Linked DNA regions of Homo sapiens. The protein of the gene in region 1 interacts with the protein of each later gene in a biochemical or structural test. Each region holds a gene or a part of one and is shown in the gene's direction. Other genes may lie near its edges.

Region 1 (4,168 bases):
ACAGGAGGTGCTTCTTAAATTGTATAGATATAATGGATGAGAAGATGAGAAACTCTGACAATGAGGCAAAATGGCATGGACTTGGTATGATAGGAAGTAGGATGCCTTTATGGGATTCTAGTTATTAGCTGTCTTCTTTTTGTGCTTTTATTTGACTTATTACATGACGATCTTTGATTTTCTTCCAATTTCATAGTCATCATATTATCCCTTAACACTGAAGAGTAGTTTTAACCCATATATTTCAAACCAATAGTTATTCTCAGAATGCTGCACTGGTAATGAGAAATCGCTGATTAGTGAGTTTAGTTGTCCTTGTGTTAGTCATTTAAAATCTTCGTCTAAAGTAGATGCTTTATGGAAAAAATGTGACATTAAATTATGGTCCTATCTTTGGGGATTTTGTTTTAATTTTTAAAACTTTTACCATATACTCAACCATAGAGCATTAAAACCTTTTTTTTTCAGAGATGCTAAAAATGTAGTCACCAACTTTAGGTTCTGAATCGTTGTACTATTTGGTAGGGGGTGGGAGAGTTTATTTTGGATTTTCAATTTCAGGCTATGCAGACTTGCTTGGTATTTAAATGGTGACTTATGGTTAAGCTTATTATTAGGTTATTTTTAAGGCTCTGATGACTAGAGAAATTTTAGTTTTAATGTACCAAAATTTAAAAATTTTTATCAAGAGTCTCACACACCAGAATCCTCTCATGGATTATAAATATTTGGTAGATGCCCCAGAAAACTGAATGTGCTAAGCCTCAGAGCAGAATAGCTGTGTAATTGTAGCCAGAAGATTTAGGATTTTCAGTAACTATTAGAAATGACAGAAAGTGAAAATCTGGAAAACTATATATACATCTTAACTATGTCTAATTTGAAGCAATTTAATACCTAGGTAACTCACTTGCACCTGTTGTAACTCACTTGCACCTGTTCTAACTCACTTGCACCTGAGTTGAACTATTGGCAAGGATTCAACTTTGTATCTTTTAGCAGTTATCATGATACCTTACACAGGGCAGCTGTCACTAAATGCTTCAGTAATGGAGAGAGTACATACCTGTTTCAGTGGGACCTGCTACTTTAAGATATACTTAGACAATATTTTAAACTAATTCTACACTCTGGAAAGGCATATATATTTATTCTCTAAATATGTAGAGCAAAATATGGTCTCTGACCTGTAAGAGCAAATCAGAGATGGCAGTCACCTACATGTCATACAGATAGAATGTCTACTTACTATACATTTGTACTTAAATTTTTATTTTTGGTTTGTTCAGTGAATTATTAAAGATTGATATATCTGAAACCTATCATGGGAAAAACAGTTGCCAGAGGTTTGACAGAAATGCAGCTTCCTTTTTTTTTGATCTAATTGAAAACTGTTTTTGTGTTTAAAATTAGTAGTTATTTCCTTAATTAGGTGAAACCTTTTTAGCAGCATTTGGTTTACTAAGTTTAGAAATATTTTTGACATAAATATTCTTGGGGGAAATTTTGATTCGTGGGCAGTTACAGTAAATTCATTCAGATCTTTTTTTTTATTATTATTGGAACCATATGCCTTCTTTCTACAAAGTGATTTACCTTGTCCTAAAACGTGACTTTGTTTTGTCCAATTCCTTCATTTTAGGAATAGCAAAGCTGTGTTCCAGAAAGCTTAAATAATTTGTTAAAGGTCACATATTCAATTAGTAGTGGAATTAGGGTAAGAACTTAGATCTCAAATTCAACAATGGAAATGTTTTTGCACTACAACGATGCCCTCCTTCATAAATGAAGATCACTGGCATGTGCTTTAACTTGGCTTTCTTCCCGTGGCAATTGTTTTTGCTCTCACACACTTGGAAGTCCCTTTTTATCAACAGTATCAACTCATGAGACAAATTGGCCCAGCTCAGGGGTATATGGCCTATTGTTACAAAATAGAATAAAGTGTATCGACTTGATAGAAATCAGTCTGTTTCTTAGTCCTTATTAATATCATTTTCTTGCTAAGAACTCTAGTCTAAAATTTGCTTTACAGAGCCTCATTGCTATGTTCTTGGGGTTTATAAGAATCTTTGCCAATTTACTGAAAAACTACAAAATCACCTGTTATATGGATTGACAGACTCTTTTTCTGCTTTGTCAGTTATCCTTCCACATGTAATTTTGCAGATTTGTTTTAAAAAAATATTCTGCCAAGTTGTTTTTATTCCATGATGTTAAAAATTATTTGGAAAACATAAGTCAGTAAGCATTGTTGTTTCAAGATATACCTCAAAAAATATTTGAAACTGTTTAGGATTGGATTTTTTTTTCATGTTTTTGTTAATTTAAACTTTACTTTTGAGAGGGCATTTTTCTTTAAATTTTCTTTGTTTCTATATGAACTGTTTTAACAGTGACTTGATTGAATTTTGAGTCATGTGTGAAACAAGTCACTTGTAGTCAAATAATTTTCAGTTATAATCAGGAGAACCGATCTCATTCATCTATAATTCTCTGACCTAGAAGTAGTCATCTCATTTTCAGTCAATTGGATCATTGTACTGTTAACATTTTACTATTTTTCAATTACTTCAAAGGTAAACTTGAATTTTCAGATGCTGTATGTTAATTTACTAGTTAATATTTATAGCTTTCATTTTTTTCTAGTACATAATTTATGCTTTCAAAACATGGATTTGTAATTTTTCTCTTTTAAAAATCAGTTTTCACTTCTGTAAATCAAGGTTTAATTTTTTCACAAAATACTATTAATATTTACCATTTACTAGGAGTATCTATAAGGGTCCAATTGGCTTGGAAAAGAATGGCTTTCCTGGTCTTTTTTTTTTTTTTTTTTTTTGGTAGTATGTTTATAATCTAAATCTATTGTATTTGTTCTTATCTCTGAAACAATATTACTCAGGATATATTTAGAATATAACTACTTTCCAAGTACTTGATAAGTTTATATTTTAAAATTCATGTCTTGTTTCACACCTGGATTCCAAACATTAAGCATGTATTTTATATATGTATCAGTATTCCAAATATTGAAATCATTTTTAAAGGGACTGTTAACAAATCTAGTCACCCATAACTAGACCATGACTGACTTTTCCACAGGGGAAGAAGAGGTGAAGGTTTCGACCATGCCACTGTCAACCTCTTCCCATTCATTACAACAAGGACAGCAGCCTACAAGTCTCCACACTACTGTGGCCTGACAACAGAACTGAGAGGAGAGGATTAGACTCTGGGGTGCTTGCATGGGCAACTGGATTTTTGCATGATTCCTTTATGATTTTGCTTTTAATGTATACACCCAGAAGAGCCAATATAAACGTTCCTCATGCCTACAGCTAGCGTGTTACCTCATAGTTGTTGAAGTATTTCTTCATTAGGCCTTTAACATAATTTATTAGTGTAATAATTTTGGCATTGTTTCTCATGAGTGATACTATTTCTAACTCATAAAAATAAACTTGTAGTACTAAGATCCCAGGTGAGATTAGCTAGAATTGTTGTTATTTTGGCTCTATTATTGAAAAATTATACAAAGGTAATGGTAGTATCTTGTTTTCTGGTTTGTGAAAAAATAATATCCTAATCTCCTGAAAAATTTGCAAATTAACAAGATAATGTCTATTGCATTCTTTGAATACTTGAGAAGAAAGAATACATATAAAACAAAATTGGTGGTGTCATTTAATGCTCAGAAGGATATTGTTGGCGATTGTTTTTAGTTGTCTAGATTTATATCCTATAATATGCATTACATGTGTAGAAACTGTTTTGTTCTCTCTCTTTTGCACTTTTGCACTTTCTTTTTGAATGGTTGTTAATTATGCATAGATGGTTAAAAGATAATTATTGTAGCCTAAATGCAATATAATCTCTTTTCTAATGCACTGCCTAGTATACCAGGAAATGCCTCAAAAACAGAACTTCAGTTTATAGTTGACTTATCTGAAACTTGAATACGGAGTAAACATTGTATGTGAAAAGCAACCATAGTAGTGTAACATTGTTACTGAACAAACAGTAATTCTGTGGGATATTGTTTTGGAAATTTCATTGTTTAATAATTAAAATGTGATAATAAGATAATATTATAAGTACCTGACCAGAATGAGACTAAGGCAGAAGAGAAGAGATTGGATGTCCTCTAAAATTAGGCCACCTAAAT
Region 2 (3,833 bases), on another chromosome or scaffold:
TGTTTGCATCTGATCATCTTGCAGATCCTGGATATTTAATCAAATTGATGCAGAAGTTTGAAAGACAAGCAGCAGTAGGAAATTTTTGTTTCAAGCTTGACTTTTCTGACAATATCCAACAGCTGCTCATATTTTTAAAAATTAGAAACATTCACTGAGAAACGTTAAAAACTTAAAAGCAAATACTGTGTTATAATGAGAATAGGTAATAACATATCATTGATGCTACACTTTACATATTATTGCACCATTATTCTGAGGTAATCATATGCCGAACAGATTACTGCACAAAGTAATGCTTTAGGGGTGTAGTTTTTATGGGAATGAACATGTCTGGCCTGAAATTAGAAAAAAAATTGGAGCCATAATCTTTCTAATCTATGCTTGCTTATGAGAAATTCTAGGTATATTTATGTCAGGCCAAACTATTTGCTACAGCAAACCGGTTAACCTGACATCTGAGATAGTCTTTAAAGTGTTTAAGTTTGGTATACAATGCACTTGTGTGTGTATATGACTCATCCTAAAATGGATGGATGTGTGTAAAAAAATTGTAATCCAATGCTTAAATGAATTTGTGAAGCACAAATAAGTGAAACACTAAGATGTTTCAGAGCATAGTTTGAAAATCCCTGTGCTCGATCACCAAAGTCACTTCCAACAGTAAAATTCTGTGTATTTTAAAAGTTCTTTTTCTATTCCCTGCACATGCAAAATTCATATAATTTAGCTGCTTTTTAGTAGTATTTGGATAGAAATTGTTTATTAAATTTAAAGTTGAGGCTCTGCTGGTTATATGTTAGCACTCTAGATGTTTTCAAGTAAATCCTTTAGTAATATGAGTGTTTAGTCTCTGCTTGACATTGTTATTGGATATATGACGGTGATCCAGACAAGTCTCCACCTTCATTAATGTAACATTCTGGAGGAGGAGACAGACAGTAAACAAATAAATAAACATAATTTCAGGTAATGGTAACTTAGGAAAAAATAAAGGGGGATAAAGGTACAGCAATTGATTAGAAATGGAAAAAAGATTAAGTAGGGTGATGAGAGAAGACTTCTGTGGAGGTATCAGTTGAGCAGAAAGGAGTAAGCCATGCAGAAATGTGGTTGAATGGTTTTCCAGGCAGAAGTAATAGAAGGCCCTGAGATAGGGTCAAGTTTTGTATGTTTGAAGATAAGAAATTTCATAAACAATTACTTAGTGCTTTCTGCATAAATGGGGGTAAGCTCTAAAGGGGAGAAGAGGTGATTAAAGCATAATGATCTGTGTCTTTCACTTCAGAAAATATTGTGGTGGACCCAGTAATCTGTAATAGGTTTTACAAAGAGCAATAGGAAGGAGGGATTATTTTTTATTAAGGTGCCTTGAAATTGTTTTCTACATCAGATGAATTGCAGGGGTTGAGGGGTGGTCTGTCTGGAGTACTGGAAAATGACATAGGAAAGCAAACTGAAAACTTTCCTTAATTCATGTGTTTATGTAGAATAATAAAACCTATACTTTTCTTAGAAATTAGTAATAAGTTTCATATTTAATTAGATTTTCTTGTACAGTCCAATAAATGTTACTTTGTGCTGTGCACTATTATAGTTGCACTGCGTAATTCCTCAAGTTAAATTTTTGTCATACTGTAGAAACATCCTAGAGTAGAGTAACTTTGTTTCAGGGAGTTAATGAGTTGGCTTCAAGGAGGTGATAAGTGAGCTCTGGGTTCTGAAGGGTGATTTGTAGTTAACTAGGTGGGGGAGGGTAGGGAATCAGCATTGTAAATGCACAAATCCTAGGAAAATGTTCTAGATTTGGAGAATGGTGAGGTAATCCTCCATAGCCCTTGATGGAATTCTGGGACCTCATAGGAGAAGTTAGTTGAAGGAATGAAGTAGCCACAGTATGAGGTCTTATCTTTTATGTGATGAGGGAACCATTAACCATTAGGAGGGGAAAAAAAAGCCAGTGAGATTGATAAGCAGATTCGTGTTTCAGGGGAAAGTTTAGATTCCACAGTCGATTTACAATTAAAATTATAAGCTTAATGGTGTATGTTTATGACATTTTTGAAAGATTATTTTCTCTCCATTAAACAAATTGAGTACTTTGCATTCATATAAGCAGGATTTTTATTTGTTAAGAACTGTATGACTTTGAAACTCTGTAGTCTATCTTTTAGAGAACTTGTTATATATGTAAATGAATGCCAACTGTTCAAGATTTTTCCGTTACTGGGGTGGAATTTTTGTATACGTTTTGGGGCAGGCAAAGTTTGAGTATTATCATCTGATGTAATGTGTTAGGCATGAGATTTAACATTCTTGGATAAATTGAAATAATACCAAGAAAATCTAAATCAGTGATAAAATCCCTACATAGGTGCTGATATTTATGTTATGTTACTAGAAGTGCTTATTTTACAATGCTATGATATGTGTTTGTGTGTTTCTCAAAATATATAACACTTGGATATATTAGGTTGCTAGCATTATCTGTTAATTGACATGCAGAAACAAATCCTAAATTAATGTTTTTAAAGAGAAAGAATTGCTTCTCTGAGAATGTAGTTTCAGCAAGTTATTTTTATTTTTATTTATTTATTTCTTTTTTTGAGACAGGTCTCACTTTGTCACCCAGGCTGGAATGCAGTATCATGATCACGGTGCACTGCAGCCTTGACCTCCTGGGCTTAATCAATCCTCCCACCTAAGCCTCCTGAGTAGCTGGGACTACAGGCGCATGCCACCATGCCCGGCAAATTTTTGTATCTTTTGTAGAGACAGGGTTCCTCCATGTTGCCCAGGGTGGTCTTGAACTCCTGCGCTCAAGCCATCTGCCTGCCTCATCTTCCCAAAGTGCTGGGATTACTGGCCTAAATTATTGCTTTTATTGTATGCATTATATACTATTTTATCATAACAAAAGTTAATGGTTCAACTATGGCATTTAGAGCTGCCCACGTAGCCTGATTGTCTATTTAGTTCACTTTTGACTGAGTAAAATGGAGCTGATCTATCTGCTATTAAAGAGAGTTATATTCTGAAATTTTACATGATGTTCATAATGCCTGGAACTAACCAGCCTGAAATGGAATCACCGTTGTACTGTTTTCAATTGGCTAGGTGACTTATTCTCCCTATACTTCAGTTTTCTCATTTGAAAAATGTAGATAAAAATAAATAAATAAAAACAAAGAAAAATGTAGATAAATAACAATACTTACCCAGTAGAACTGATGTAAGGATTAAAGTTTTTTGTGGGTTTTTTGTTCGTGTTCGTTTTGGAGTGGGACTTGTTAGGTTAAAGAGGAGCTTCTGGGGTATACAAGAATTAGCCACAATTTATTTCATAGAGTGCACTATACTCTTTTTTGTATCAGATTCGTAAATGTAAACAAGAATGCAGTCTTGCTCTTAGAGTCTAAACATGTTTTTCCTACCAGGAATTTTGTTTAGATGACCTTCTGTGAAGTAAGATGTGTAATATTTTGAGTAACATAAATAAATCGTCATATTGCTCTGTCTGTAGTACTTGGCAAAGCACAGGGCACATAATAGGCATTTAATAATTCCTGTGTTAAGTGGGATAAATCTAATGGGTTAGGATTCAGACAGACTGGTGTCTACCTTTTTCAACCTGAATAGTGCAGAGTTAGTTACCTGTAGTAGTTTTTTCTTCTGTGCCTGTTTTCTTCCTTAAAATTAATAAAATATTTTCTTCCCTTAAGTGTATTTAGTAGGTTTAAATATGACCCTGTAAAACTCCTGACAAGTAGGTATTTACTGTTGTTGGTTCCCATGCCATTTCCTTTATTTAGAGCAAAAATTGCAAAAATCCT

The links. Proteins that work in one complex are often made in the same cells at the same time.
Region 2: the proteins of CNOT4 (region 1) and CNOT2 form a complex in vitro, tested with the Homo sapiens proteins (one study listed by BioGRID).

The regions. Positions count from the first base shown.
Region 1 is NC_000007.14:135,387,832-135,391,999, reverse strand, and holds part of CNOT4 (CCR4-NOT transcription complex subunit 4), read left to right. Parts: intron 1-3,105; coding exon of another isoform or gene 3,106-3,206; exon of another isoform or gene 3,207-4,168. UniProt on the Homo sapiens protein: Has E3 ubiquitin ligase activity, promoting ubiquitination and degradation of target proteins. Involved in activation of the JAK/STAT pathway. Catalyzes ubiquitination of methylated RBM15.
Region 2 is NC_000012.12:70,249,600-70,253,432, forward strand, and holds part of CNOT2 (CCR4-NOT transcription complex subunit 2), read left to right. Parts: intron 1-3,833. UniProt on the Homo sapiens protein: Component of the CCR4-NOT complex which is one of the major cellular mRNA deadenylases and is linked to various cellular processes including bulk mRNA degradation, miRNA-mediated repression, translational repression during translational initiation and general transcription regulation.